Linked DNA regions of Homo sapiens: all the other regions are reported to be linked to region 1. Evidence: microRNA targets listed by miRTarBase, many of them from high-throughput screens and not tested one by one. Region 1 holds a microRNA gene; each other region holds the end of a gene's coding sequence.
Evidence for each region. Region 1 holds the annotated microRNA hsa-miR-519c-3p (AAAGUGCAUCUUUUUAGAGGAU, at 2,119-2,140, shown strand). A microRNA usually pairs through its seed, bases 2 to 8, with sites in the 3' UTR of a target mRNA and lowers its output. Matches are read on the target gene's strand: a 7mer-m8 pairs with bases 2 to 8, a 7mer-A1 pairs with bases 2 to 7 and ends in A, and an 8mer does both.

Region 2: miRTarBase lists KLRD1 as a target of hsa-miR-519c-3p. Seed matches in the 3' UTR shown: 7mer-m8 at 2,596-2,602.
Region 3: the mRNA of KATNAL1 is a reported target of hsa-miR-519c-3p. Seed matches in the 3' UTR shown: 7mer-m8 at 1,930-1,936 and 7mer-m8 at 314-320.
Region 4: the mRNA of HOXB3 is a reported target of hsa-miR-519c-3p. Seed matches in the 3' UTR shown: 8mer at 1,406-1,413.
Region 5: the mRNA of PITPNA is a reported target of hsa-miR-519c-3p. The part of its 3' UTR that is shown has no 7-base or 8-base seed match.
Region 6: the mRNA of ZFYVE9 is a reported target of hsa-miR-519c-3p. Seed matches in the 3' UTR shown: 7mer-m8 at 914-920.
Region 7: the mRNA of MAPKBP1 is a reported target of hsa-miR-519c-3p. Seed matches in the 3' UTR shown: 7mer-m8 at 932-938.

Annotation. Positions count from the first base shown.
Region 1 is chr19:53,684,404-53,688,480 of GRCh38, forward strand. It overlaps MIR519C (microRNA 519c), which reads left to right and starts at 2,066; the gene lies at 2,066-2,152. It overlaps MIR515-2 (microRNA 515-2), which reads left to right and starts at 606; the gene lies at 606-688. All of the region lies in intron 2 of LOC107985342 (a long non-coding RNA gene), which reads left to right.
Region 2 is chr12:10,314,073-10,318,149 of GRCh38, reverse strand. It overlaps KLRD1 (killer cell lectin like receptor D1), which reads right to left. Exons shown (of 6, transcript NM_002262.5): 6 at 1-3,477. The coding sequence ends at 3,357. Among named protein-coding and RNA genes, the nearest start is that of KLRD1, 8.2 kb to the right of the region's middle.
Region 3 is chr13:30,204,835-30,208,911 of GRCh38, forward strand. KATNAL1 (katanin catalytic subunit A1 like 1) reads right to left here. Exons shown (of 11, transcript NM_032116.5): 11 at 1-3,904. The coding sequence ends at 3,706. Among named protein-coding and RNA genes, the nearest start is that of LINC00385, 53 kb to the left of the region's middle.
Region 4 is chr17:48,546,794-48,550,793 of GRCh38, reverse strand. HOXB3 (homeobox B3) reads left to right here. Exons shown (of 5, transcript NM_001384749.1): 5 at 1-1,924. The coding sequence ends at 460. It overlaps HOXB-AS1 (HOXB cluster antisense RNA 1), which reads right to left. Exons shown (of 7, transcript NR_102279.1): 4 at 2,331-2,419; 5 at 848-905; 6 at 392-454. Among named protein-coding and RNA genes, the nearest start is that of HOXB2, 3.7 kb to the right of the region's middle.
Region 5 is chr17:1,518,035-1,522,111 of GRCh38, forward strand. It overlaps PITPNA (phosphatidylinositol transfer protein alpha), which reads right to left. Exons shown (of 12, transcript NM_006224.4): 11 at 3,545-3,611; 12 at 1-2,504. The coding sequence ends at 3,567. PITPNA-AS1 (PITPNA antisense RNA 1) reads left to right here. Exons shown (of 2, transcript NR_028514.1): 2 at 1-62. Among named protein-coding and RNA genes, the nearest start is that of PITPNA-AS1, 3.2 kb to the left of the region's middle.
Region 6 is chr1:52,345,372-52,349,448 of GRCh38, forward strand. ZFYVE9 (zinc finger FYVE-type containing 9) reads left to right here. Exons shown (of 19, transcript NM_004799.4): 19 at 689-1,263. The coding sequence ends at 850. Among named protein-coding and RNA genes, the nearest start is that of CC2D1B, 19 kb to the right of the region's middle.
Region 7 is chr15:41,824,962-41,829,038 of GRCh38, forward strand. It overlaps MAPKBP1 (mitogen-activated protein kinase binding protein 1), which reads left to right. Exons shown (of 31, transcript NM_014994.3): 31 at 248-2,894. The coding sequence ends at 475. It overlaps JMJD7-PLA2G4B (JMJD7-PLA2G4B readthrough), which reads left to right and starts at 3,131. Exons shown (of 25, transcript NM_005090.4): 1 at 3,131-3,227. The coding sequence starts at 3,164. JMJD7 (jumonji domain containing 7) reads left to right here and starts at 3,131. Exons shown (of 8, transcript NM_001114632.2): 1 at 3,131-3,227. The coding sequence starts at 3,164. RefSeq lists enhancers at 801-1,683, 2,729-2,958, 2,990-3,284 and a silencer at 3,019-3,108.

The sequences.
Region 1 (4,077 bases):
CGTGGCACGTGCCTGTAATCCCAGGTACCCCAGAGGCTGAGACAGGAGAATTGCTGGAAACCTGGAGGCAGAGCTTGCAGTGAGCTGAGATCACGGCCCTGCACTACAGCCTGGGCAACAAAGTGAGACTTGTTTCAAAAAAAAAAAAAAAATTTATTGAGGAGCTTTTATGGCCTAGCCTGTGTTCTATCCTGGAGAATGTGTGTACAACAGTGTATATTCTTAAACATCATCTTAGATTCCATTTTGGATGCTTGCATGGGGACTGTGTGTCCCTGTACTGGGACTTATGTGAACACTTGGCTTCAAATCCATTGCTGTTCTCTAGAAATCCAGCCCAATTCTCATGGTTAAATATAAGGTATGTGTGGTAGGCATTGCTTTTTCTCTTTGGGGACAGAACTCAGGAGGATTGTCTCTTGATGAACAAGGCTAACCTGCTGAGCCTTTGAAGCAAGGAACTGGAGATGGTCCTTTTAGGGGTTTATATTCTGGATTCCAGAAAACATGCAGAGAGAGTCAATAAATGTATCTTTATTTTTGTGTCCATTTTAACCAGGTGAGGAAAATTCCGTCAAAAAACCCAGACTTTTGGAGCGAGAAGATCTCATGCAGTCATTCTCCAAAAGAAAGCACTTTCTGTTGTCTGAAAGCAGAGTGCCTTCTTTTGGAGCGTTACTGTTTGAGAAAAACCACGTTGAAGTTGATGCTGATCTTGGTAACACATTTGCAGAGCGTGCTTATCATCAGACTTGCATGATGTTGGGGTTCTGTTTTTGTTTAGTTGTTTTGCATCATGGGGTCTCTGTTGCCCAGGCTGGAGTGCGGTGGCGCTTCCAACCTAGATCTCTTGGGCTCAAGTGGTCCCGTGCTTGCTTTTTTTTTTTTTCTTGAAACAGAGTCTCTGTCTCTGGCCCAGGCTTGAGCGCAGTGGCATGTTATCTGCTCACTGCAACCTCTCCTCCCAAGTAGATGGGATTACAGGTGCACGTGCCACGACGCCTGGCTAATATTTGCATTTTTAGCAGAGATGCAGTTTCATCATGATGGCCAGGTTAGTCTCCAACTCCTGACCTCAGGTGATCCGCCTGCCTCAGCCTCCCAAAATGCTGAGATTATAGGTGTAAGCCACCCAGCCTAGCCTCCAATTTTTTTTAATGTGTGCTGCCAATGCAAGCACATATGTGTAGGAATTATTTTTCATGTGAGCACATAGTATATGGAACTTAATTTTTATTGATGTACGGTCTCAAAAATATATATTTTATCATATTCTTATTATACATGTAACATAGTCATATACACACAAAACACTCTTCTATACACAGAGAATACTCTCGTATCACTTTGGGTAATTTTTTGTTTGTGTGTGTATGTTTTTGTTTTTTTTTTAGATAAGGTCTGGGTCTGTCACCCAGGCTAGAGTGCAGTGGTGCCATCTCAGCTTATTGCAACCTCCACCTGCCACTTCAGCCTCTTGAGTAGCTGTCTACAGGCGCACACCACCACGCCCGGCTAACTTTTCTGTTTTCTCTACACATGAGGTATCACCATGTTGCCCAGGCTGGTCTCAAACTCTTGAACTCAAGTGATACTCCTGCCTCAGCCTCCTAAAGGGCTGGGTTTAGAGGTGTGAGCCACCACACCTCACCTGTACCTGTGTGTTTCTGCTCATTTTATTGAGGAGCTTTTACAGCCTGGCCTGTGGTCTCTCCTGGAGGGTGTTTGTGTGTGTGACAATGCATATTCTTCAACATCGTAGATTCCATTTTGGATGCCCCCGTCGGGACTGTGTGTCACTGTACTGGAACTCGAGTGAACACTTAGCTCAAAATCTATTGCTGTTCTCTAGAATCCAGCCCAATTCTCATGGTTAAATATAAGGTATGTATAGTCGGCATTGCTTTTTGAAACAAGGAACTGGAGATGGCCCTGATAGGGGTTTATGTTCTGGATTCCAGAAATCATGCAAACAGGGCCAATAAATGCATCTTTATTTTTGTGTCCATTTTAACCTGGTCAAGGAAAATTCCAACAAAAAATCAATGGTGCTGGAGCAAGAAGATCTCAGCCTGTGACCCTCTAGAGGGAAGCGCTTTCTGTTGTCTGAAAGAAAAGAAAGTGCATCTTTTTAGAGGATTACAGTTTGAGAAAAGCAACGTTAACGTTCATGCTGATCTCGGCAATACATTTGCAGAGCGTGCTTATCATCAGACTTGGATGAGGGTGGGCTTTTGTTCCTGGTTTGTTTGTTTTCTAAGACGGGGTCTCTTTTGCCCAGGCTGGAGAGCAGTGGCACTTCCAACCTAGCTCTCTTGGGCTCAGGTGGTCCTCTTTGCAGGGTCACGATCTCTGCTCACTACAATCTCCCCTTCCCGGGTTGAAGTGGTTCTCCCATCTCAGTCTCCTGTGTTGCTGGGAGTACAGGCCCATGCCACCACGCCCGGCTAATTTTTGTATTTTTAGCAGAGATGGGGTTTCACCGTGTTGACCAGGATGGTCTCCATCTCCTGACCTCGTAATCCACCTGCCTCGGCCTCCCAAAGTGCTGGGTTTACAGTCATGAACCACTGCACCCGGCCTTTGATCTTAATTTTCAATATGAGACCCATCATGAATTTGGGCATCACCTCTGCACAGGGGCCATGGTGATCTCTGTCACTCCATTCATTTCTTATGTGTGGAGCAAACATTTATGTGTAGGAGTAATTCTTTATGTGAGCATACAGTATATGGAACTTTCTTTTTTTTTGAGATAGGGTCTGGAAAATAAATGATGTACAGCCAGGCGCATGAGTATATGAGCAGTTTTTGTGTGTATACGACATGAGCGGTGGCTCATGCCTGCAATATCAACACTTTGGCAGGTTGAGGCGAGTGGATCACTTGAGGTCAGGAGTTTGAGACCAGCCTGACCAACATGGTGAAACCCTGTCTCTACTAAAAATACAAAAAATTAGCCAGCTATGGTGGCGCACGCCTGTATTCCCATCTGCTGGGGAAGTTGAGGGAGGAGAATCACTTGAACGGACAGATGGAGGTTGCAGTGAGCCAAGATCACGCCACCACACTCCAGCCTGGGCGAGAGAATAAGACTGTCTCAAAAAAAAAATATATATATACATATATATTTATATAGAGAGAGAGACTCTGTCTCAAAAAAAAAAATATATATATGGGTGTGTTTGTGTGTATATATATATTATATATGATGTATATTTCATCATATAGCCATATATATAATTATATACACAAAAAATACTCTTCTACACACAGAGATGACTGATATCACTTTGGGGTGGTTTTTGCTTGTGTGTTCTTTTAAATTTTTTTTTGCAACAAGATCTGGCTCAGTCGCCCAGGTTGGAGTGCAGTGTTTCAGTCTTGGCTCACTGCAACCTTCGCCTCCCACCCCAGCCTCCTGAATTAGTGTCTACAGGCATGTACCACCACACCTGGCCTACATTTGTATTTTTTTACAGACAGGGTTTCACCGTGTTGTACACGCTGGTCTTGAGCTCCTGAGCTCAAGTGAATCTCCTGCCTTGGCCTCCTGATGTGCTGGGATTAGAGGTATGAGCCACCACACCCAACTGGTACTTGTGTATTCCTGTTCAAATTTTATTGAGGAGCTTTTACCACCTAGCCTGTGGTCTATCCTGGAGGATGTTTGTGTGTGCGACAATGTATATAGTTCAACATCTTAGATCACATTTTGGATGTTTCCAATGGGACTGTGTGTCTCCGCACTGGAACTCAAATGAACACTTGGCTCAGAATCCATTTGCTGTTCTCTGGAAATCCAGTCCAATTCTCTTGGTTAAGTATAAGGTATGTCTAGTAGGCATTGCTTTTTCTGTTTGAGAACAAAACTCGGGAGGATTGTCCCTTGATGAACAAGGCTAACCTGCTGAGCCTTTGAAGCAAGGAACTGGAGATGGTCCTTTTCAGGCGTTTTATTCTGGATTCCAGAAAACATGCAAACAGGGCCACTAAATGCATCTTTATTTTTCTGTCCATTTAAACCTGGTCAAAGAAAATTCCAACACGAAACCCAGAGTGCTGGAGCAAGAAGAT
Region 2 (4,077 bases), not on the chromosome of region 1:
AATAACTCACTTTCTTATGCATGCAATATGAGAATACAGATGTCACTAACTGATATGGCTTGGCTGTGTCCCCACCCAAATCTCATCTTGAATTGTAGTGCCCCTAATCCTCACGTATCATGTGAGGGAACTGGTAGGAGGTAATTTAATCATGGGGGTAGTTACCTCTTTGCTGTTCTCATGATAGTGAGTGAGTTCTCACTAGATCTGATGATTTAATAAGAGGGTATTTTTCCTTTTGCTCAGCACGTCTCCTTTCTGCTGCCATGCGTAGAGGGATGTGTTTGCTTTCCCTTCTGTCATTACTGTAAGTTTCCTGAGGCTTCTCCAACCCTGCAGAACTGTGAGTCAATTAAATGTCTTTATTTTATAAATTTCCCAGTCTTGGGTATATCTTTAGTAGCAGCATAAGAACGGACTAATACACTAATGTTGTGGGTGAGCAACGGCTACCTGGGCCGGTGGCATTGAGGTAAAAGAATTTACCAAGACAGCTGTAGGTAAAGGAAGGCAGATTTATTAAAGAAAAGTAGGAAAATATGTTTCCAGGGAGGCAACAGGCAGCATCAGCAGAAGAAAAGCTGACTGCAAAGAAACAAAGGCTTGCTTAGGATTTTATGGAATAGTGTTTATGCTGTATGCTGCAGAGGGCTTTGTCCAGTACTGATAATGCCAAGGTTGCGGTGAGGTAACTTGCAGGTGTCTGGTAATAGTTTAGCACATGGCCCATATCCTGGACCATGAAGAAAGGCAGACTCATAGCTTATCTGCTTTCTCTTTCTGCTTTTCCCTGCTCCCGCCAGCCTAACTCCTTTTCCCTAATTAGGACTTCACAACTAACGGAGGAACTAATAATTAATGTATTGAGAAAAACAGAAAATAATTACTTGTCCTCACATGCACACGTATGTTTATTGCAGCACTATTTACCATAGCAAAGACTTGGAACCAACCCAAATGCCCATCAGTGATAGACTGGATAAAGAAAATATGGCACATATACACCATGGAATACTATGCAGCCATAAAAAGAATGAGTTCATGTCCTTTGCAGCGACATGGATGAAGCTGGAAACCATCATTCTCAGCAAACTAACACAGGAACAGAAAACCAAACACCACATGTTCTTACTAATAAGTGGGAGTTGAACAATGAGAACACATGGACACAGGGAGGTGAACATCACAGACCAAGGCCTGTCGGGGGGTGGGGGGCAAGGGGAGGAAGAGCATTAGGACAAATACCTAATGCATGTGGGACTTAAAACCTAGATGATGGGTCAATAGGTGCAGCAAACCACCTTGGAACATGTATACCTATGTAACAAACCTGCAGGTTCTGCACATGTAACCCAGAACTTAAAGTAAAATAAAATAAAATAATAATTACTTGTCCTAGCATATGGGAATCAAGGAACCAAAAGGCAGTGTTTAAATTATATAAACTGGCCGGGCACAGTGGCTTATGCCTGTAATTCCAGCCCTTTAGGAGGCCAAGGCGGGCAGAATCCTTGACCCCAGGAGTTCAAGATCAGCCTGGGCAACAATACAAAACCCCATTTCTACAAATGATACAAAAAATTAGCTGAGCATGATGGCTCGCACCTGAGTCCCAAGTACTCAGAAGGCTGAGGTGGGAGGATCCCTTGAGCCTGGGAAGTTGAAGCTGCAGTGAACCATGATTGCATCATTGCACTACAGCCTGGGCAATGGGAATGAAACCGTGTCTCAGAAAAAAAAATAATAAAAGTAAAAAATAAAATAAGTGGCATAAACTATGAAGTAGCAGTTGTAACATATTTTTAGGATTATGTGGGTACAGTAGGCATAACTCTAAAGTGGTTTCTAATTGGTACACCAGTGGCCTAGTGTACACCTGCATAATCCCTTCCCCTTTTGTTTGAGTAGGATTTGGGATTATGATGGGATGTTACTCCGTGGTTGGAGTACACTAAATAACAAAGGTGAGGCAGTTTTTCAGATGCAATTAAGGTTCCAAATCCTTTCATCTTTTTTTTTTTTTTTTTTTTTTGGAGAGGAGTCTGGCTCTGTCACCCAGGCTGGAGTGCAGTGGTGCAATCTCGACTCACTGCAACCTCCACCTCCTAGGTTCAAGCGATCCTCTCGACTCAGCCTCCCAAATAGCTGGGATTACAGGTGTGCACTACCACACCCAGCCAATTTTTGTATTTTTAGTAGAGACAGGGTTTCACCATGTTGGCCAGGCTGGTCTCAAACTCCTGACCTCAAGTGATCCACCCGCCTTGGCCTCCCAAAGTGCTGCGATTACAGGCATAAACCACCACACCCAGTCCAAATCCTTCCATCCTAAGTCAATCAAAATTAATTTTTTCATCACAAAAATGATGAAAATAGATCAGCTTTGATTCATAACAGAGAAAACCACTCTAAGTGTTAAAATCAAAACAGAAGATAATGCCTAATGAAAGGAGGTCAGGGGTATAGGATAGTTGGTGGAAAAAAATATTGATAATCATTACATGCTTGCCTGTATTATTTTAAATTTTTTAATTAAAAAATATATTATTTTGTAGTCACATGGACAACAAAACCAAAACATTACAAATCTCCAGAAAGTGCAATGCATAAGCTCTCTTAGTTCAAATTAAACATTTGAAAGATATTATTTTTCATCCTATATCTTTTGTCAGTTACCTGAAATGCATTTTTCCCAAATCAATCTTCATACAAGAATGTGAAGAGGGCCAGGGATGGTGGTTCACACCTATAATCCCAGCACTTTGGGAATCCAAGGTGGGAGAATCCCTTGAGGCCAGGAGTTCAAGACCAGCCTGGGCAACATAGCAAGACCTTGTCTTGACAAAAAATTAAAAATTAAAAATTAGTCGGGCATAGTGACATGGTGCCTGCAGTCCTAGCTACTTGGGAGGCTGAGTCAGGAGGATCACTTGAGCTTGCAATGAGCTATGATCTTGCCACTATGCTCCAGCCTGGGCAGTGTGAGTTAAATTTTATTTTCTAAATTTTATTTGATGTGAATTAAATCTTATTTAAATTTCTGCTGAGAATTAGCAAGAATGTAAATAAAATTACATAAATGTGTAATAAAACTACATTGAATTTAACATTAAATATATACATTAAATGAAAATACAAAATTCTTTATGTTAATTTTATAATTCTCAAATGTAGGTGAACGAATTTCATCAATTTTAAAACACATTGTTTCACATACATGACAATTGTATATGACACTGTTTAAAAACATTTTATAGACTCCAGAAGTAGACAATTAGTAATAATATAACATGCAACTGTATCATTGTTAGTAATGTTGGGTCTTTACTCTCCACCTTCTCTGCCCCAAGAAACATTTAAATGAGCTGTTGCTTACAGATATAACGATTTTTATCTTCACAGGATTCATCTAAAGCATTTCCATTTGGATTATACGCTATGCAGTTCTTTGTATTAAAAGTTTCAAATGATGGAAATCTGTAATGAAGAAGAAAATGTTCACATACACAAAAAGGAAGTAAGAATGTTCAGGGCATTTTTCAATTAAATGATATAAATTTTAAAAGCATTTGAGTGAGATACTAACATATTGAGTCCTTTTTTTTTCAGTAACCACAATTTTCATGATTTTCTAGTGTAATGCTACAAAATACCCAGTTATTTTCTCACTAATCAATAGCATTGAGGCCAGGGATTTTTTCCTTGCTGTTTTTCTGTTGTCATTAATGGTTTAAATATGTGATATGCTTTTCTTCTATTTTATTTAAGATGTATTATCTGATCTAGTCTAGGAAAACAAACCAGAGCATAAACTTTGTCCCTGTGTGATGCTGCAAATCTCATGTTTATAAATGAAAATGAGATTCAAAAAGTACACACATACAGACAATGAGTCTATAGTATATAAAACATAAGAGCATGCTGAGAATATTGGGGTCTACCAGAATAAATAAAATAATAAATATACTATTTTTTTGGACTGCCTCTGTGTATATGAGTATCTGTACATGCACATATACTTCCAAGTGCTGGTACTAAGGCAAAAATAAAGCATATGTTAAAAGTTCTTTTATGGCC
Region 3 (4,077 bases), not on the chromosome of region 1:
CCAAAATGGCTAGGTATTGTGGGAGGTAGTGGTCAGACCCGAAAGTGTGTAGATAAAGTCTGTGATGCCACCATCTATTGTCTACTTGGATCACTAGAAGGTTGCAGCTTCCATTAAAGAGGTGTTTATTTTACTAATATTAATTTCCTTTAAAAAAAGAAATTATGGGGGCAAAAGGTTTATAGTAAACATGTCATGCTTATAATAAACAGGCAGCTTGGGAAATGGTAAAAATTGTTCATTAAAATAGATCCATAATAGTTACACATTATTCAAATAAATGTATATCAGTTCTAATTTCAAAACAGATTTAAAGTGCAAAAAATAGGGGAAAAAAACTTTTATATATTTTTCCAAAGCACAAACAGATTACTATGCCTCTCCATCAGTGATCTAAACTCTTGTTTCAGTAGTAGAAGCCAGAAGCTATACAGAGTCGTTAGAGAAACTGCCAAGTTTGAACTGTACTCTCTAGTCCAGCTTTGTCTTGGTCCACAGAGCTCCTACTCACTGTGTCTTGGACCAACCAATACACGTCTACAGAATGAAGGGACTATCTGATCAGATATCTGCAAAGCAGACTTAGCTTAGTCCTACAGTCATTGTGCTGCAGAACTCAAAATACTCATGTTTTCAGAGGAATTAAAGGAGCCAAATATTTTTCCTTTGATAATGCATCTGCTACCGCAACACTGAATAACAAAACAAAACGAAGCAAAACAATTCAATCTCATTCTGGGTAAGGCAACACACTGTCTTCTGCAATAAAGACAGTCAGAGTGTGTGTGTGTGTGTGTATGTGAGTGTGAGTGTGTGTGTGATGTACATTAAAAGTTAGGGCTGGGCACAGTGGCTCACGCCTGTAATCCAAGCACTCATTCTGGTAAGGCAACACACTGTCTTCTGCAATAAAGACTGTGTGTGTGTGTGTGTGTGTGTGTGTGTGTGTGTGTGTCTCACGCCTATAAGGCAACACACTGTCTTCTGCAATAAAGACTCTGTGTGTGTGTATGTGTGTGTATGTGTGTCTGTCTCACGCCTGTAATCCTAGCACTCATTCTGGGTAAGGCAACACACTGTCTTCTGAAATAGTGTGTGTGTGTGTGTGTGTGTGTGTGTGTGTGTGTGTGTGTGTGTGTGTGTGTGTGTTGTATATTAAAAGTTAGGGCCAGGTGCGGTGGATCACACCTGTAATCCCAGCACTTTGGGAGGCCAATGTGGGCGGATCATCTGAGGTCAGGAGTTCGAGACTAGCCTGGCCAACATGGTGAAACTCTGCCTCTACTAAAAATACAAAAAAATAAGCCGGGTGTGGCGGCAACTGTAATCCCAGCTACTCAGGAGGCCGAGGCAGGAGAATGGCTTGAACCTGGGAGGCAGAAGTTGCAGTGAGCCGAGATCATGCCACTGCACTCCAGCCTGGGCGACAGAGCAAGACTCAGTCTCAAAATAAATAAATAAATAAAATAAAATAAAATAAAAGTTAAATAGAACACCTGAGGGATGTCTTTAAGATCCTTTAAGGGATTTAAGATATACAAAGCATCTACCATCCACTGACAGGGCAAAATGAGAAACAAGGGAAATAAAAAGCACACCTGACTCACTTAACATAGTAAAGTTAGGCTCCCAGGAAGTTTAAGTTGCCAAATACTGCTTAACTGGTATTAAAAGAATCACAATTACTATGTCATTATCCATGAAGAATTCAGAAAAATAATTAAATGCACACCAAGATAATCAATACAAAACCCAGAAAAGGTCTAACTAATCAACTATTGTTAGGCTGGTGCAAAAGTAATTGCGGTTTTTGCCATTGAAAGTAATGGAAAAACCACAATTACTTTTGCACCAACCCATTACAAACAAGTTTTAACAATCACAAGACTAATGTTTTAGTGACGGCTCCTAAAACTTCAGGGAAAAAAAAAGTGCATTTCTGACTGGCAATAGTTTGCAAAATAATCGTAATGAAACTACTTATTTCTTTATTTTAAAAGTTAATAAAAGGAAACCTCTCAATTTTTAGGAAGAATTCAATTACAATAAAATCATGATGTCTTATGATCTGGCATCTTATAATCTGTGTCTCAGAAAGAAGGGCAATTTACAGCATCAGATGAATACTGGAGTTTAGGTCAGACTTAAGTTATCTGAAAAGAACATAAGGCATTTACAGTTTTTAGCAGGGAAAAATAATCAAATCTCTTTTTTTAAAAAAAACCTTCTTAGTATCTTGGTTAAATGTCCAAAAAGCTGTATTATTTTTAGTTTTAAACCAGTAGGCACTATTCGAAACTGAGAATTCAGGATGTTATCAAATACAAATTTTTAAAAGCTTGACCATTAAAGCATAAATTGCCTAATGAGACACATGTAATCATAAAAACTAACGCCAGGATCATTTACTTGTGATTGGATATATGCCATTTATTTTTCTGGCTTCTTTCTAATGTGTAATTCCTGCTGAATTGAGTGAGCATGTCAGATTTCTATCTTTATCTTAGTGTGTGTAAAAGTTCTCAACCTAGACAAGGACAAATTTTAGAATTTTCCAATGAACATCATTCACTATGTATGATGCTGTTTTGTTAAACTAGCTGTTTGGAAAACAATAAAGATTTCATTTGTTTTGCGTTAGCCACAGAGAGTGGACTTGTTTAGAATGTAAAAGTATTTATCTCAAATACTAAAATCAAACTCAAGAAAAATCAAACAATGCTGGAGCTGAGAAAAATAATGGCTATATATCTGGTTGAACATGTTGAAAGAAAAGTGAAAACACAGCCAGGCATGGTGGTGCGCACCTGTAATCCCAGCTACTTGGGAGGCTGAGACAGGAGAATTGCTTGAATCTAGGAGGCAGAGGTTGCAGTGAGCCAAGATCAACCACTGCACTACACAGCCTGGGTGACACAGACTCCTTCACGCACACACAAAAAAGTGAAAACAAACTTGGAAGTCTAGAATGAAGAATTACATCTAATGCAGTAATATTCTTCCCACCTTTCCATATTAAATGTAAGAAGCACCAGCAAAAAATACTAAAGACAGAGAAATGACCTGGCAAAATGATTCAAATACCACAGAGCGTGAGAATATTCCTCAGTAAAGCTCAAGATATTATGAAGTAGCTAGCAGAAGAAATGGCAGGGGTAGCGGAAGTAAAAATTCTAACCATATGACAGACTCTAACAGTAAGTCATAAATTCTAAAGGTTTAATTAGTAAATTCATTATTTCCTCCAAAATATACTGTCATTCTTCTCTTAACAATGAATGTTTGACACAAATCCAATTTTGATGTTAAAAGTCAACATACATAGATAGGTCCCTCATGTTGACAGAGCACAGAATTGGAAAAAAAAACTGCAAATGAGAAATAGGGGTATTTCTAAATCTTCTGTATTCCTAAAATATCACACTGCGCCCTTGCTTCAGCCTCCCTGATAGACTGGTTTGGGTGTGCAATATTAATGCAGGAATACGTGGAATACCAGCACAAAGCCGGGGAGGGAGACTAGCAAACTCTCGCCATCAATTATTTCTCAACTACATTTAGTATTCTTCGCAGTTTTAGATTTTTTTTTCCTTTAAGCGAAAACCACTCCACTGAAAAAAATTCCAAACTTGTTTTTTAAAAATTGCAGGAATTTCTTCGTATTTTATCAACAAAAATACCAGAAATTAAAGAGCTGACAGAAATTCAAGCAGATCCAAATTCAACCATCCATTTTTCATACTTCTCCAAGTCTGCAGCAGAGACAGACTTAGCAATTTTCTTTAGGGCCAATTCAAAGTCTCCTTTGGTAACAGGCATCTGAAGTTCCTCTTTAGAAAGTGCACGGATTTCTTCTGGACTTAAGCCATTGATACGCCGTCTCATTGCCATTAAAGAGGCATCCCTAAAAATATACCAAAATCAGTCAACAGTAATTTTTGCACATGTTTTAAACACTTTCAATTGTAACAAAGTTATGAAAAAAAAATCAAAAGATTATTTTATATGTTTTTATGAGGCTTCTTAGAATTTTCCACTTAAGAAACATCCTGGGGGTTCAGCAGAAGTTAAGACAGG
Region 4 (4,000 bases), not on the chromosome of region 1:
ACACTCCATGACCCCCAGCTACGAGAGCCCGTCCCCACCCGCCTTCGGTAAAGCCCACCAGAATGCCTACGCGCTGCCCTCCAACTACCAGCCCCCTCTCAAAGGCTGCGGCGCCCCGCAGAAGTACCCTCCGACCCCGGCGCCCGAGTATGAGCCGCACGTCCTCCAAGCCAACGGGGGCGCCTACGGGACGCCCACCATGCAGGGCAGTCCGGTGTACGTGGGCGGGGGCGGCTACGCGGATCCGCTGCCGCCCCCTGCCGGCCCCTCCCTCTATGGCCTCAACCACCTTTCCCATCACCCTTCCGGGAACCTGGACTACAACGGGGCGCCCCCTATGGCGCCCAGCCAGCACCACGGACCCTGCGAACCCCACCCCACCTACACAGACCTCTCCTCTCACCACGCGCCTCCTCCTCAGGGTAGAATCCAAGAAGCGCCCAAATTAACACACCTGTGATGGGAAAGGGCGAACGAGGATTAGGGGATGGGGAGGAAGAGAGAGACTGTGGAGCTCTGGGGGGCAACCTGGAGGTCTGAAAAGAGGAGCCAGAGAAGGTGGTACCCAGGCTTCCTGGTCAGAACCGGCCTGGAGCTCCTTCCCTTCCCCCTGGCCTGAGAGGTTGCTTTTAAGTCTTCCACCCCTTGTTCCATCTGCCTGCCAACCCATCGGAAAGGAATCCACATCATATTGGAGATGACCCCATCAACCCCAGGGCTCCAGCACTACCAAGTTGGAATTCCACGCCCGGGAGTGGGGTAGAGGAAGACGAGACAGGACGAGGCAGAAAAGCACATTTTAAAAACCAGACAAGATGGCTAGGCCATCACCAACCAACGGACTTACCTTACATCTTTGTAGGTAATTCCCCCCAAATCTTGATTTTTTTTTTTCCTCAATTATCCTTTAAAAAATAAGAAAACACATTTCAAACCCAAAAGGCACAAAACACGTTCCCTTCCAACTTTCCCAAAACCTCAAATTTGTTCCCATTTGAGGTTTATTGAGGTACACTTCTAGCCCCCGGTTTTTCTGCTCTAGAACATTCATATCTATACATCCCACCCCCATCAATTACAGTTTTTAGAGGGCTCAGGGATGGTGAGAGATCCTGAAAGAGCTGCCTATATTATAAATTATATACATTTTTTTTTAAGGAAAAGTGTGGAGGCTAGGGCAGGCAGGTTGTTAGGACTGAAGGTTTGCCCATTCTGCTGCCTCCATCTCAGCTCCAGCTCCATCCCCCTCTCCACAGAAAGCAGTTGGTGACACGAGGTTCTATACTTTTCTTCTGTTGCTCTCTTGACTTAACGTGAAAACAGGGTATATTTGAACAAACTGTCCCAGGCAGGGGCTGGGCAGGGCCTGTGTGCCTTGCTCAGCCTCCTGACAGGACACTTTTGTTGCACTTAGAATTTACATTTTAATGGATGTAAAAACAACTGTGAGAGATGTCTGGGCCTGCAGAAGTCCAGCATTGCTCAAAAAAGCGTGTGTTCTAGTGAACATTTTCATATATATTTATTGGTTATAGCCTGTTAAAATATTTTCTTTTTTGTATTATTTATCCCCCTACATTATGTATTTATATGAGGGAAAAAAAGGAAAAAATTGTACTTTTTTAGTATTTACCTGTTACAAAGGACATTGTGTTTCCTGTCATGTAAAACCAGCTATTTTAGTTACTATTGTACTCTAGAAAAGAGCTGTAGATTTATGTTAAACTCGTACTTACGAACAATTGTAATTAGTTCTAAAAGGCATGAACTCAGCTCCTAATCGTCACTGTATAGTCCTGAATTTGTAGAACTAGAGTTAATTCCCTCTTGGAACTTTCTTTGTTCTTCAGTAGTTACTTTTTTCCTTACCTAAAAGGGTTGTCTGTCAAACAATTCTTGAATAAACTTTCTGTTATCAATTTTATCTTGTCCTGGTGGTCCAATTTAGATAGCAGAGCAAGGCTGCTGACTGCCAAATTTCCCCCAAGGGAAGAAGGACAAGGACAAGGACACTGAAGACCCTTCCCTGGCCTTTTTGTCCACTGCCCAGGTTCCTGTCTCCCCCTTGATATGTCTTAAGTTTAAATACCATTTTCTCACTCATAAGAGCCTGTAACATTTTGCCAACTTCTTCAGCTGTGGTTTAAGTAGCAAGTTGGGAGGTAACGGGGGACTCTTGGATGCTCTCTGTAGGTTTTTCTGTTTGGCCTGTATGCCTCTAGGTTTTTCATTCATTGACCTTTCGTCTGTTAGCTCCTTTGGCCACAGCGTCCATGCACCCCCCACCCCCCACCCCTTCCCACCACCACCAAGAAAATCTGGCCGATTACGGTTTCTTCCACGAAACCTAAACTTCACAATCCTCTTCCGGAGCCACAAAGAAGGTGTCACGTGACCCGAAGCCCAACCACCATTGGGTCTAAAATGAAAACAAAGAAAAATGATTAATCTAAAAAAAAAAAAAAAACAAAACTGAGGCCTAGACTTCTCAGGTCAAACTTTAAAACTAAGTAAAATTAAATCACTAAATAAAACTCGAGGCGGAGGGAGGGGAAGCACGTTCGATTTCCCCTGCCAGAGAAAGGGGAGAGGAGGGTGGGAGAAGCTGTTGGATCCAAGCGTAAATAAAACGGTCCCCAGGCTAATGTGCGGCTCTGTTTCCATCATCCTTGGGAAAACTTCATTTCTTAGTTGTGGTTCCATAAAAGTTTTATCACATTGGAGTGAAAATAGAGAAGGTCTGTCAAAGATGAAATGTCACCGCCGAGTCGCTGGAGCCGATAAGAGCGAGAAGACAGGGCGGCTGAAATATGGAGCTAATTCGTTGAAAGAGAAGCGATGGCTGCTTGCTGAAGAGCTGCATAATTCTAATTGTAAGCGATGTGCCCGCATTGCTTAATTAGGAGCATATATTTGGTGGTAGTGATGTTGGGGGAGTGAGAATCGTTCCAGGCCCTGCCTTAAAGAGAGGGCTGATTTTCATTTTTATGTTGCATCCTGGCAGTCCAAGGTTAGTAATTATAGTCTTTATGCAACAATAAATAACAATAAAAAAGCAACCTGAACTCTACGCCCTCCCCCTTCCCCACCACCAAGTAGGATTTTAACTGGACTCATCCAAGCAGCAAGCAATTTAGCATTGGGTCAGGCTATAATTTAAAGGCATAAGAGCGTGCAAAGTTTGATTGGGATCAAATAACGCTCAAGGGTTTTTCTTTCTTTCTCTTTCTCTCTTCTTCCTTGAATAACATTTTCTGAATGATATAACTAGATGAAGCACCATGTTTGGCTCTGGGGCTGGGTTGGGTTGTTATTTATCTAGCAGGAAAGAGGCCAAGAAAGAGAATTTAGCTTAAGTTTGAAAAACAGAGCTTTGGCTCGAAGCTGGAATTGCAAACAAGAAAAATAAGAACCAACTTGGCTTGGTGTTCCCTATCCTTCTCTTTGGAAGATTCCAGGCGCTCAGCTAAAGCAGCCAAAGACGTGGGTAAAATATCCGTGCTGTTAAATTCACAGCAGGACAGGGGGGCGGGGGAGGGATGTCTCTGAAAAGGAGGGTTCTCTGGGCCCCTTTTAACACCCAAGTTTTCCGCTGTTTGCTAATCTGGCCATAAAATCTGTCAGTGAGGGTTAGAGAGAGCTGTATTTCCTGCAGGGACAGTCTGCCCGAGTTGCCTGAGATAAGCTCTGGATCCTTCAGCCAGCTACAGAAGCTGTTGCTAAACTTTCAGAGGTGTTCAAGGGGGTGGCCAGAGGGAGAACCCACTCTCAGGCCTCCCTGCATGACTTCCAGACAGCTACTATTTGGATTATTCTATGCCCACCCCCATCCACACCTCTAAATGGCAAAAATTGTTTTCTTTGGAGCCTAGTTGCACACTACTGTCGCTGGCCACTTTGCCCAGGTCAGAGCAGCTCTCTCTGTTCTGAGCCCTCCAGAGCATGCCTCCTCGGTCCCTGCAGCCCCCACCTCCAACTCCCCTTTCTCCATCCTCCTCTC
Region 5 (4,077 bases), not on the chromosome of region 1:
TATTGGAAGATTGAGACAAAAAGGCACAAACTCACATTAAATAAACAAGGTAATCTAATCAATTCTACAAAGTGTAGTTTGTAAAACAAGTAGCACTAGGAACCAACCAAAGTAAGTCAGGGAGTCCCAGCAGGGACTGTAAAAGAACTTGGGAAGCTATACACATGCCCACGATACTGACCCTGTCCCGGACCTCTCTGCATGAGAAGGCCAGAGCCCAGCACCCCTCCTACAGAGGCACTGCTGCTTCTGTTGGGGCTGTGACCCTGGAATTCTGATGGAAGCAGCTGGTCTGAAGGGGCATGGCACACACTCAGGTACTACCCCTGGAGCTGAACCTTTATCATAAGTCCCTCTGAGTGCTAGTCAGTTTGGAGGTGGGTGAGGAGGAAAGGGGGTACTTAAAAGAAGCCAACACTGTTGCCCAGCAGCAACACCATCCGTGGGGATGGAACAGACCAGGGACATCCTCCTTTATGTTTATGTGGGCTGCAATTCCAGATCCAGGCTGACCTCAGCTCATAATGGATGCTTTTCAACTGGGGCAACAGGTGGAGGTGGGAGGAGCCCTTGTTAGGGCTAAAGTGATATGTGTGGGTCTCAAGAGCCAAAGGAAGGAGACTAACAGCTGCTGACCCTCAGACCACATAGACAACTGTCTGCCTAGAATGTCAGTTTGTTTCTTTCAAGATAACCCGCATCTGGACTTCCCCTAGTTGATGAATGAAGGAACATCTTTAAGCACAAATATAATGAATAGCTAACACAGAGCTTATAGGAAAACACTGACATTTTTCTCCAGTAGGAATGCCTCTTCTCCAACTTTCCAAGTCAGATAAATGCTACCAGCAGTTGAGATGCTACCCAGATGCATTACTAAAGACCCCTCAAGGTGAGGAGACTTACACAGAGGAAGGTGTCTGTAACAAGACATCTGGTTCCAAAGGGACCTCAATGAAGGTCAGCGCTAACCATGCTGGGGGTCTGAGTCTGTCCACCCTTGCCCCAGGAGGGCCACAGGGAAGCATCCATCAGGATGTCACAGGTGCAATCCTGTGAGACACTCCCTTATTGCACTTAGAAATGAGTAAGGCAAACAAACTGACAAAAACAGGATACATTCTCCCACCCACTTCTTGCTTCCCGGACAAAGATTTGGTCTCCCATTAGCAGATGCACCCAGGCTAGTGTGGGCTGGGATCACGGCACACTTAGGCCAACGTGCTTCACAAGGTTTGGGGAATGTCAGGTGACACTACAGCTCTCTCTCATTCTCCCACTAAGAGGCAAACTCAGGCTCTGTCAAGTTGCAGGAAGCTATGAACACTGGGCAGCGTCTGTTCCCCTGGAGCCTGGACTTCCTCACCAGCCTACTTTGGTCGGGTTCTGTACTATGATCACTACTTGCTTTGGGTTTTCCAGGGCAGAACTCAACATGGGGGTAGGACGAGCTAAGTTCTTGATCCCCAAATTCCTTTCCGGCAACTGGAGACGAGGGAACATGTTCTGCTGGAAAAAGCTTTTTGCATGCTCATATTGTGCAGCATGAAAGATCAGGACTCTTGCTTCCTAACCAGCCTCAAAGACAGAGGACAGGGACCTAAGAAAGCACAGAGAAAAGAGGATTATTGCTGAGTGGCAGCACCAGCCCCAAAGGGAAGAGGAGGAGCAGGGACTTACAGAGCTCCTCGGGGTCAGACAGTTGGTATCTAGGGGGTGACTCAATTCTAGGGGCCACACTGGACAATTCCCTCCAAGTGGAGAGTTGACTGGGGCGATTTTGTAGACTGCAGAGAGATTCAGAGCGGGCAACAGGAGGGCCAAGAAGCCACAGGTGTTTCTAAGAGTAGTAACTAGAGATTCAGTGATTGGGACAGGGTTACTCGTATTTGTTAAATTTTCTTAAATAGAGACTGGCTGAGCCTTGGGTACCTCCATAGTGCTAGAGTGCCCTAACGATGGGTTACTGGGAGCAGAAGTCAGAGCTGCAAAACCACATTGCTATTTTGTGGAAGCGGTGCGGGGCAGGGAAACATTGTATCTTTAGCTCATCCCCGCTCCCCACAGGAGCACTCAAAATTGCGAAGATCTTCCCAGGAAGCAAAATACCTCAGTTTACCCCAAGGTTGAGAACAAATGAACTTAAATCATTTAAATCACCACATCACAAAAGGCAGCTATTTGAAAGACTGAAAATGTCACTTGGAAATAAAGGTTGGGGGAACACACAGAAATGGATCGGAACACAATGGAGAGAGACGGAGGCGCTGTAACTACAGCAACCTACACGCCACGTATCTCGGAGGAGCAGGCTCCTGCACACGCGGGCTCTGTGACACCAGACGGTCTATTTGTTCACAATACTGAAGGGCATCTAGAATTAGCTACAGTAAGGAATCGAAAGTTGCCTGAAGAATGGGCACAGAACGGCTGCGTCCGAAAATGGCCTGTCACTTGGGAGGGTGGAGCTGCTGGGTCTTCCTGTTGACCACTGTCTTGCAAAACTAGAAGAAAAATGAAAGTATTAAGGAAGCAAGAGGAGAAAACAGAAACACTGTAAATCGTCCTGAATGGATAATTTCAAGAGGAGGAGGGAAGCCAGTGGGTGGGTGGGGAAGGGAGTGGGGGAGAGCACTGAGGCCCAGAGCAGTGACTGAGAAGCTGGCATCACAGCAGTCCGCCTCATTCCACCCTCCAGCCTCCCCGAGGCTGCTTTGGGAACATGGGGCAGGGAGAGTAAGCAGGGCCTGCCGTCACTCCTGGTGAGACCCTGGCCCTCCTTGCCCGTAGGGTTAGAGGCCAGCTTTTATTTGTAAAAATAATTTTCTCTCTGAGGCTAATTGGGAGCAGAGCCAGGTTTTTCATTCAGTGATTAAGACTGCTTTGAGCTGCTGGAATCCCATGACTCGGGTGGTGTACAGGGCACTGGGAAACCAGCACCGAGAGTTAACGGAAGGAGGGGGCTTGGGGAAAAGTGACAACATGAAACAAGGGGCCCCCAATCTGGCCCTGTGACCTGGGCAGAAACACCCTCCCAGCATCTGAAAGATGCCACCTCTGATGAGGGCAGCTTAGTATGGGATCGGGGGTATAAAGAAGGAAATGAAGCACCAGACAACAGTGGGTGCTAACAAAAGCTGTCTGGCCAGCAAGTTTTCCAAGGGGGAAGGGCAGGTAATGGCAGCTTTTGGGAGCTGGCGCTGGCGTGGGAAGGCCAGGGAGTGCCCAACATGACAGCTGCAACTTGAGATGGATCAAGCTGGCAGACAGGAGGAGTGATTCGCAGCAGATGAACTCCCCTTCTATATCCACCACCCCCTCCCTGTCCATTGTCTCTATCTGGGTGGTTCTTTGGAAAATGTCCCTGAAATGTCCCAAGGGCCATAATCTCCTAGTGGAAGTGGAGAGCTATCGAGCGTGGCAACCATCATTACTAGAGGGAAGGAGGAATAGGTTTTCTGACTCCATAGTGAGCTGCTGAGGCCTTGAAACCCAAACTGATTTTAGCGTCTGTGACACGCACAGTGAGAAATTTGGTACGTACAGTGCAGAGGGGAAAGGCGGCTTTAGTCATCTGCTGTCATTCCTTTCACTGGGTCCTTTTGTCTCATCTGGAACAAAAAAAGCAGGACAAATGGAAGGCTCCTGCTGCTGATGGAACTCCTGCCTTCTCAGTCCTGCCCATAGGTGGGGTGGGGCATATTTTGTGTAAAAAGCAAGACACTGGAAGGACGGAAGAATTCTGCATATGGACTCGAAGCCATACATTTCCAGATCTGTGTCACTGGTCTCACCATCCATGATTTCTAGTTCTCTCGTGTCACGGTGTTTGAAGCACCTTTTTTTTTTTTTTTTTTTTGGTAAAGAGGTGTGTGTGGGGGGGTCTTCCTATGTTGACCAGGCTGGTCTTGGGCTCCTGGCCTCACACGATCCTCTGCCTCAACCTCCCAAAGTGCTGGGATTACAGCATAGGTGTGAGCCACCACACTTGGCCCGTTTCATTCATTTATTCATTCAACAAATACTTATGAAACATCTTTTTTTTTTTGAGACGGAGTCTCGCTCTGCCGCCCAGGC
Region 6 (4,077 bases), not on the chromosome of region 1:
TCTGGCCTGAGTGCTTATGAGGAGAAACTGGTTCCTGATCACAGGGTTGTGCCATTATCAGGGAATGATGAAAGGTTCTGTGTCTGGCCCCAGTTCCTGACTAGTCATCAATCAACAAATATTTATTTTCTGCTTAACGGCTTGCCCAATGCTATACTAATGAAGTATTCTGGTCCTATCTCACATAAAACAAAGAACAAGCATTTTTCTGCTAAATATGTGAGCCTCTTGAGGGCAGGGCCCTGTTACATTCATCTTTGGATCCCTGCATTTGTAGTTGCTCAGAATGGTGCATGGATGAACAGATGGATGCAAGAACAAATATTCAGTTCCTACTAGGTTAGGGAGCTGTACATTGTGTATTTCTCATTTTAATTTTCACAACCAAAGATTAAGGTATTATTTCTGATACTCCATACCTTTTTACACACCTCTACCCTTCCCCAGAAAACTAAGACCATAACAGGTTAAGTGGCTTACCCAGTGCCTCATGGTTGTCAAGTGGTCAGGAGGAGTAAACAACAGGATAAGTGATCACCCAGAAAAGAGGATAAATTTGTATTCACTGCCATATGTTTAGCCTATGGCCAAAAAGGACATCTCCTTTCCTGCTCAGCCTCCTTGCCCTCAGCCCTGGAGAGGCCTTCTCTGTTCAGTAACCTCTCCTCCTTTTCTCTCTGTGGTATAGGTTGGCTATCAAGCAGGGAGCAATGGCCAGCCCCTTCCCTCGCAGTACATGAATGATCTGGACAGCGCCTTGGTGCCGGTGATCCATGGAGGGGCCTGCCAGCTTAGTGAGGGCCCCGTTGTCATGGAACTCATCTTTTATATTCTGGAAAACATCGTATAAACAGAGAAGACTTCATTTTTTTCTGTTCAGACTTGTTGCAACAGCAGTCATACCCAAATCATTTGCACTTTAAAACTGGAAGATTAAGCTTTTGTTAACACTATTAATGGGGTGGGGAATAGGGTGGGAGTGGGGGTTTGGGAGACGGGTGGGAAAGGGTGGTTGGGGGGACCGATGTTCCATAATTCTAAGTCTTCTATGCATTGTCCACCAAGAAGATCTGGGCAGCTTCTGTTCCTGCACAACAGTTATGCTATCCTTGCAGCTAATCCCCTTCTGTTACTGTTTAGACAAGAATTCCGCTCCTCTCTCAAGATTTACTTATGGTCATGTGCTCAGAAATGCTCAAATGGGTACAACCATCACCAAGGGTGGGATGGGAGGGCAGAGGGGAAATAAAATATAAAGCATCAGTTCTTGCACTCTTTGTACAGAATTGGTATAAAAAGGATAATTCCACACTGATCTTGTCCCAGTTACATCACAGCTGTTTATCAAGTAGAAGTCACACTTAGATTTTTGTTTTTACCAGATTATTCATTGAAGTGAATCGAAGACTCAAGGGCTTAATCTACTCTTCCAGTTTCGGAAGGGCAACTCAGTGTAAATGTCATGTGGAGAGCAGAGGTGAGTTCAGGATTGCTGGAGATCTGCCCGTGTGGATGGCAGGTATTCAACTGGGTATTTCTGTGAATGCTGATGGAATACACCCAGGACATTTTTAGTTATAAATACTGGAGGAATTTAAAAATACATTTTATTGAGAAATAATTTAAACTTCTAGGAAGTTGAAAGTACAAAAAACCCCACGCACACTTTACCCAGATTCCCCTCTTGTTCACTTATTAACATTTTGTCCCATTTGATTTGTCAGGGTTTCTCTCTCCCTTTCTCCTTCTCCATAAAAAATTGAGGCATTTGAGAGTAAATTGCGTACATCATAGGCCTTTCCTCCTAAATGCTTATTTCCTAAAAATAAGGATATTCTCTTACACAACTGTAGGACAGTTCTCTACTTCAGTCAAACATGGATTTGATACTTTAACCTGGCATCTGCCCAGTGATGTTCTTTGTAGCATTTTTTCCCTCCAGTAAACCTTCCAGTATAGAATCAGACATGGCTATGGCTGTCATGACTCATCTTGATCTTTTATGTCATTGATATGTATTTTTTTTGAGACGGAGTCTCGCTCTGTCACCCAGGCTGGAGTGCAGTGGTGCAATCTCGGCTCACTGCAATCTCCGCCTCCCAGGTTGAAGCGATTCTCCTGCTTCAGCCTCCGGAGTAGCTGGGATTACAGACGCCCGCCACCACCCCCAGATAATTTTTTTGTATTTTTAGTAGAGACAGGGTTTCACCATGTTGGCCAGGCCTGAGCTCAAGTGATCCGCCATCCTCTGCCTCCCAACTCCTGATCTCAAGTGATCCGCCATCCTCTGCCTCCCAAACTGCTAGGATTACAGGTGTGAGCCACCGCACTCAGCCTCATTGATATTTTTGGTGAATGTAGCCACCCCCAACCCCACCCTGTTTTTTTTTTTTTAACAGAAAACAACTCAGTTTGATATTTCCTCATATTTAGAATCAGTTTATGTGTTTTTGCCCATAATGACTTGATATCCATCTGCCCCCTCATTGATAGTGGTAAATTTTGATCACTTGGTCAAGGTGTCCAACTTCTCTGTATATCCCCCTACCTGGAACTTATAACCAGTATATGTAGACTTTCAGACCATGCAAATCTCTTGCCTATGAAAGTGTCCCGTTAAATTAGCATGCATTGATGTTTCTTACCTGCACTGATCTTTTACTATGTTTGCAAAATGATTTTCCAATTCTAGCGCATTCTCCAGCTTTACAGGTTGCACTTGGTAATCTACTATAAGCAGAAGCCCTTCCTTCCCAATTTATTCATTTAATTTTCATTATACACTCATGGACTGTTGTTTTGCTTTGTTTTGTTTTGAAACAGTGTCTCACTCTGTCACCCATGCTGGAGTGCAGTGGCACAATCTTAGCTCACTGCAGCCTCAAACTTCTGGGCTCAAGCAAACCCCCCACCTTGGCCTCCCAAAGTGCTGGGATTACAGGCATGAGCCACCAAGCCTGGCCTTTTTCAGTGGTTCCAATTCATTATTTTGGTGCACAAATGGTCTCAGCTTTAGCTAGACAAGAGACCCTTCAAGCTGGCTCCTACATCCTGGTGATATGCTATTTTTTTTTTTTTTTTTTTTGAGTACTTCTTTTTTATTTCTATCCTAACAAGATGCTTCAGGCTTATCTTGTGCTTATCCTGCCCTAGCCCTGGAATCAGCTATTTCTGCAAGGAGCCCTGGCTTCTTTTAATGGGAGTGGTATTAGAAACCAAAATCTGGTTTATCCATGATATGTGTGATGCACTCTGACCTTTTTCTGTTTCATTAAAAATTTATTTTGATCTTAGACCAAATGGATTCCACAATGCACATTTTGAAAATACTGCTTTAGGGCAATGTACTCCATTGTCACTGGCATCTTCTGAAAGCCAAGGCTAAACTAGTTTTTCTGCAGTATTAGTACAGCTCCAAGAATTCCCTGGAAGCTAGCGCAGGCCTGTGGGACAGCGACAGGCTGCTCCCCAGTGGCTAGTGCTGGGTTTAGCACGAGGCAACAGCAGGCTGTGGAGCTGTGTTTGCGGCAGCAGCTGTTTTCCAGAGGCCTAAAGGCCTGGCCTGGGAAACATCTGGGTAGGTTCATCCTGCTCTCTGAGGTGGGAGCTTATAGTCGACATCTGCCTCTCCAAAGGTTTTACCGACGGTGGTTGCACAGAACTCTTACTGTGACCTTTCCCACAGGCTCAGAGGTACTCAGAGCTTCTAAGGGGAAGCTTGGCCCACAGAGCAGCAGCTTGTCAGGACCGAGCCCTGGTAACCACTACCTCCAAACCTGACAAGAACAGGAAGCACTTGTTAACAGGGGCAGCTTATTTTTGGTCTAATAGCCAGCTTTGTCTGAACATACCTCAAAAGTCTGGAACTTCTACAGGGACTGGTCCTGTTTTCCTGTGGTTTATCTTCCTGCTTGCCATTGTACTTATTTATTCTGGTTCAGTGCAAGCTTTTAAATTCTCCCACTAAGGACAAACTCTGGCCCTCAGATCCTTTCTCAGCTGCATCAAATGTCCTCTGTGTTTAGTAAAATCATTTGTGGAATTGGGCATAAAATAGCCAATGATAGTTAATTGTTT
Region 7 (4,077 bases), not on the chromosome of region 1:
TTCTGCCGGAGTTGTCATAAGGAGTTGCTTATAAGATGTAGACGGTTCTGCAATCCAATGGGTTCCTCCTTGGGCGTCACCCCCAGAGTCTGCCTGCATCCCATGTTCCCTGGCCATACATGCTGATCTTGGCGGGTAGAGTTCCCAGCTAGTCCCTTCTGAGGCAGGCTGGACCCAGGTGGGGCCCCTCCCTTTTATATGTCTGTTGACAGGCTCCTCCACCTCACTTCTGGGGGTGCTATTTCAGGTGGCTGGCTGCAAGATGCCCTCAGCAGAGCAAAGTCGGATTGCCCAGCTCCTCAGAGACACCTTCTCTTCAGTGCGACAGGAGCTGGAAGCTGTGGCTGGGGCAGTGCTGTCCAGCCCAGGCAGCAGCCCTGGGGCTGTGGGAGCCGAGCAGACACAGGCCCTGCTGGAGCAATACTCAGAACTGTTGCTTCGAGCCGTGGAACGGCGTATGGAACGCAAACTCTGAGTTCTGGAAGCCTGTCCCAAGTGAATGAATGCTCCAGCGATTCCAAACTGCAGCCCCTCTGCCCCTCACCAAAACCTGCGGGGCTGCTTGGAGTGGAAAGCAGGGAGCAGTGTTCAGAGGCAAAGCAGCCTTCCCAGCCGCTCCTCGTGGGGGGCCTGTATTTATTAATTTATTTCCCTGACTGTTGCCTCACTTCCTTGGAACTCCTGCCTCCACAGCCCCTCCAGTGGCAGGGACAGGTCTTGGGTCTTTGTCATCTTGGTGCTGTGAGAGGTAGGAGGGCAGCCTGCCCCATCTAGGAATCTGGGAAGGGCTGGCCCTCTCTTAGAAGCCATTTGAAATTACTGCAGGGATTAGCTCCCTGTGGTGGAGCATACACAGGGTACTCTGGGGTCGAGGTGAGAGGTGATGTGGTATTCAGTGCCCGTCAGCCAACTGTGGGCCTTCACCTCTACCTGCACTTCCCCTCTCACACCAGCTGCACTCCCGTGGCTGCCAGAGCAGGGTGGTTTTCCCCAATACCTGGAGCTCAGAAAGGCAGAGCCATCTGGCCCTCCAGGGTGTCCCCAGCCATCAGGAGACTTGAGTTGGTATTTGGACCTGAGCCCGCACATTCCACTCCCATTCTCCCTCCAAGAGGGGCCCAGCATTGTATTTCCCTGTGACCCCTTACTCTCCTGGCCAGAACTTGAGCCAGCTGTGGGATGTTGCTGCAGGACAGTAAGCCCTCACCTGGGCAAACATGAAGCTCTGGCCTCCTTTCCTCAGCCCCTTGTTCTTCCCTGTCCTCCACCCTGGACCCCAGCCGGCTGCTGGAGCCCAGAGGCCACCTTCTCCCTGCATCCTGAATGATGCTTAGTCAGAAGCCTGTGTTGGAACATCCCTCGTTTACGGGGCGCTGGCCTACCTCCTGAGGACCTCAGCCACAGATGAGATCACACGCATGCACGTGCACACATGTACACACACACACCTACCTGCACAGCACGCTGTTGAGTGTTGGTTGCTAGAGTATCTGGCTGGCTGCTGTGTGCCTGGTTTCCTCACATCCTGCCTCAGCTTCACCACCCTGGCTTATGTGGAACACCTATCAGGGAGCAGAAAAGGGGTGCAGTACACTAAGTGAACCCAGATTCTGGATTCTTGGTGTCCACAGCCTAGCTGATACGAGATAGCCCATAGGACACCTGGTTTAGGTAGAAGGAGCCTCCTCAAAGGCAGTGCTGGGCACCCACGGGTGTGCTGGATACTGGAGTTTGAGAGGAGGGAGGTGCTGGGGCCAAAGGAGACACTAGAAAAGTGGTAGATGGGACAGGTAAGTGGCAGAGGTGAGGGGATAAGTTAGAATGTAAAAGGGCAGTAATTAGGGGTGAGGGAAAGGAGATAGGGGACCCTAGGAGGTAGAGTGGGACCATGTCGTGAGGCAGTTGAAGAGTTGAGGAAAGGTTTTTCTGGGCCCTACTGCTCCCCTCTGCTGCAGGTAAGTCAGAGCAGCTTTACCACAGCTTCAGGCCACGAGAGCCCCTTCACCCGCCCTGCTGCGCCATAGGCAGAGGCTTATAAAGAAATGGGTTCTGGGCCAGGTGTGGTGGCTCAAGCCTGTAATCCCAGCACTTTGGGAGGCCGAGGCGGGTGGATCACCTGAGGTTAGGAGTTCGAGATCAGCCTGGCCAACATGGTGAAACCCTGTCTACTAAAAATAAAAAAATTAGCTGGGCGTGGTGGTGGGCGCCTGTAATCCCAGCTACTCGGGAGGTTTAGGCAGGAGAATCGCTTGAACCCTGGAGGTGGAGGTGGAGGTTGCAGTGAGCCGAGATCGCGCCATTGCACTCCAACCTAGGTGACAAAGCTACACGCCATCTCAAAAAAAAAAAAGAAAAAGGGTTACAAAAGGTTCCCAGCTCCGGGGCATCAGCCTGAGTGCGCTTGAGCTGCTCCAAACCTGGCCCTTCCCCACTCCTCTAGCATCGCCACCCGCATGGCCCTGGAACTCCCGCGGCGGCGGGGGCGGGCCCGTGCCTGCTGTGCCCCGACTTCCCACACCAGCCGCGCCCACCGCAGGTGGGACTCAGGTTCGCCCTCTGGGCCAGGTCCTTCACGAGGAGGGAGCTACCCTTCGCCAGAAGTTTGTGAGAATGTGGCCGCCCTTTTCCTGCCCTCTGCCCCATGTGGGTGGGGGGCCTCGTGGCCCGGCCGGCGCCCCGTCCCCTTCTGCATGTCTGAGGCCACCGGCAACCGCCGCCCCACTCCAGATTTGCCCCCGCCTTGTTTTGAAAGCCCCTTATTTATAACTTTTATACTTTGTGCAGGTCGCGGCGCTTCCTGCCTCATCCTCGGCTGCATGGGGCGGGGGCGCTGTTTTTAACGTGCCCGTTTGTACTGATGTATGAACTTGTCAATAAACACAATTGTTTGTTAACCCTGGGATGCCGGCCAGTGGGGCAGGCCGAAGCGGGCGCTGCCAGTCGCTCCACCGCTTCGGTGGCAGAACCCGGTGTGTGTCCAGGGGCAGGACGGGGCGGGGTGCTGGGGGTGTGGCCTGCGGCGGGTGCCTCTGGAAGGGCGGGGCGAGGGTCTGGGGGTGTGGCCTGCGGCGGGGACTCTGGGGAGGGCGGGGCGAGTGCTTGGGGTGTGGCCTGCGGCGGGGCGTCGGGGAAAGGCGGGGTCTCGGCCGGCGCTGACGCAGCCATGGCGGAGGCGGCTTTGGAAGCCGTGCGGAGCGAGTTACGAGAATTCCCGGCCGCTGCAAGGGGTGAGTGGCTCTCCCACAGGCTGCGGCGATTTCCGAACACGGGAGGGGCCCTGGGATGCCGCTGACACCGGGGGCTCGGAACCTCGTGTGTGCGACTGCCCTGAGGCCCCGCTCGGGTTGCTCTTCTGTGGCAACCTGCTTCCCTTCTCCCGTGTTCGCGCGCTCCCGCGGCTTCCTGGGTGATTCTGTTCACGTTGTTCCCAAGGCCCGGTGCCGTCTTGACCGTGGTCGCGGCGAAGCCCTGTGTTTCCTACAGTCTTGAGCAGCTTGCTGTTACCCTTGTTGAAAGCTCATCGAAGGCACACAGCTGGTGGTCGGATTCCTCCCCCACGCGCCCCACCTCCGACCTCAACTCCCTTGTCGCACTTTGGGAGGATTGCAGGCTGACCAAATGGTCCCTGGCTCTTCCCCTGCTTGGTTTTTATTCCTTTTCTTTCTTTCTCTCTTCCCTCCTTCCTTCTTTTTTCTATTTTTAAATGATTTCTTACCACTGAACAGCAACACAGGCTCATGTGTATGTGATGGGTATGTAATATACAGTGGTACGCAATGTAAATGAAGCAAGGTTTCCTCCCAGCCCCAGTTTGCATTCTTACAGAAAGATTGTTTATATCCGTGCACACACGACTTTTTACCCTTTTTTTGTACAAATAGTAGCCTGCTAAACACACTCTTCTGCACCGTGTATCTTGGAGATCATTTCACATTCCTCTACCTCAGTCTTTTTCACGTCTGTGTGCTAGTGCTGTATTCACTTAGTCATTTAGGTCATGTCCAATCCGTTGTTTTCAATAATGCTGCAACGAATACTTTGAGGATTGATTTAACAAATACTTATTCAGCATCTCTG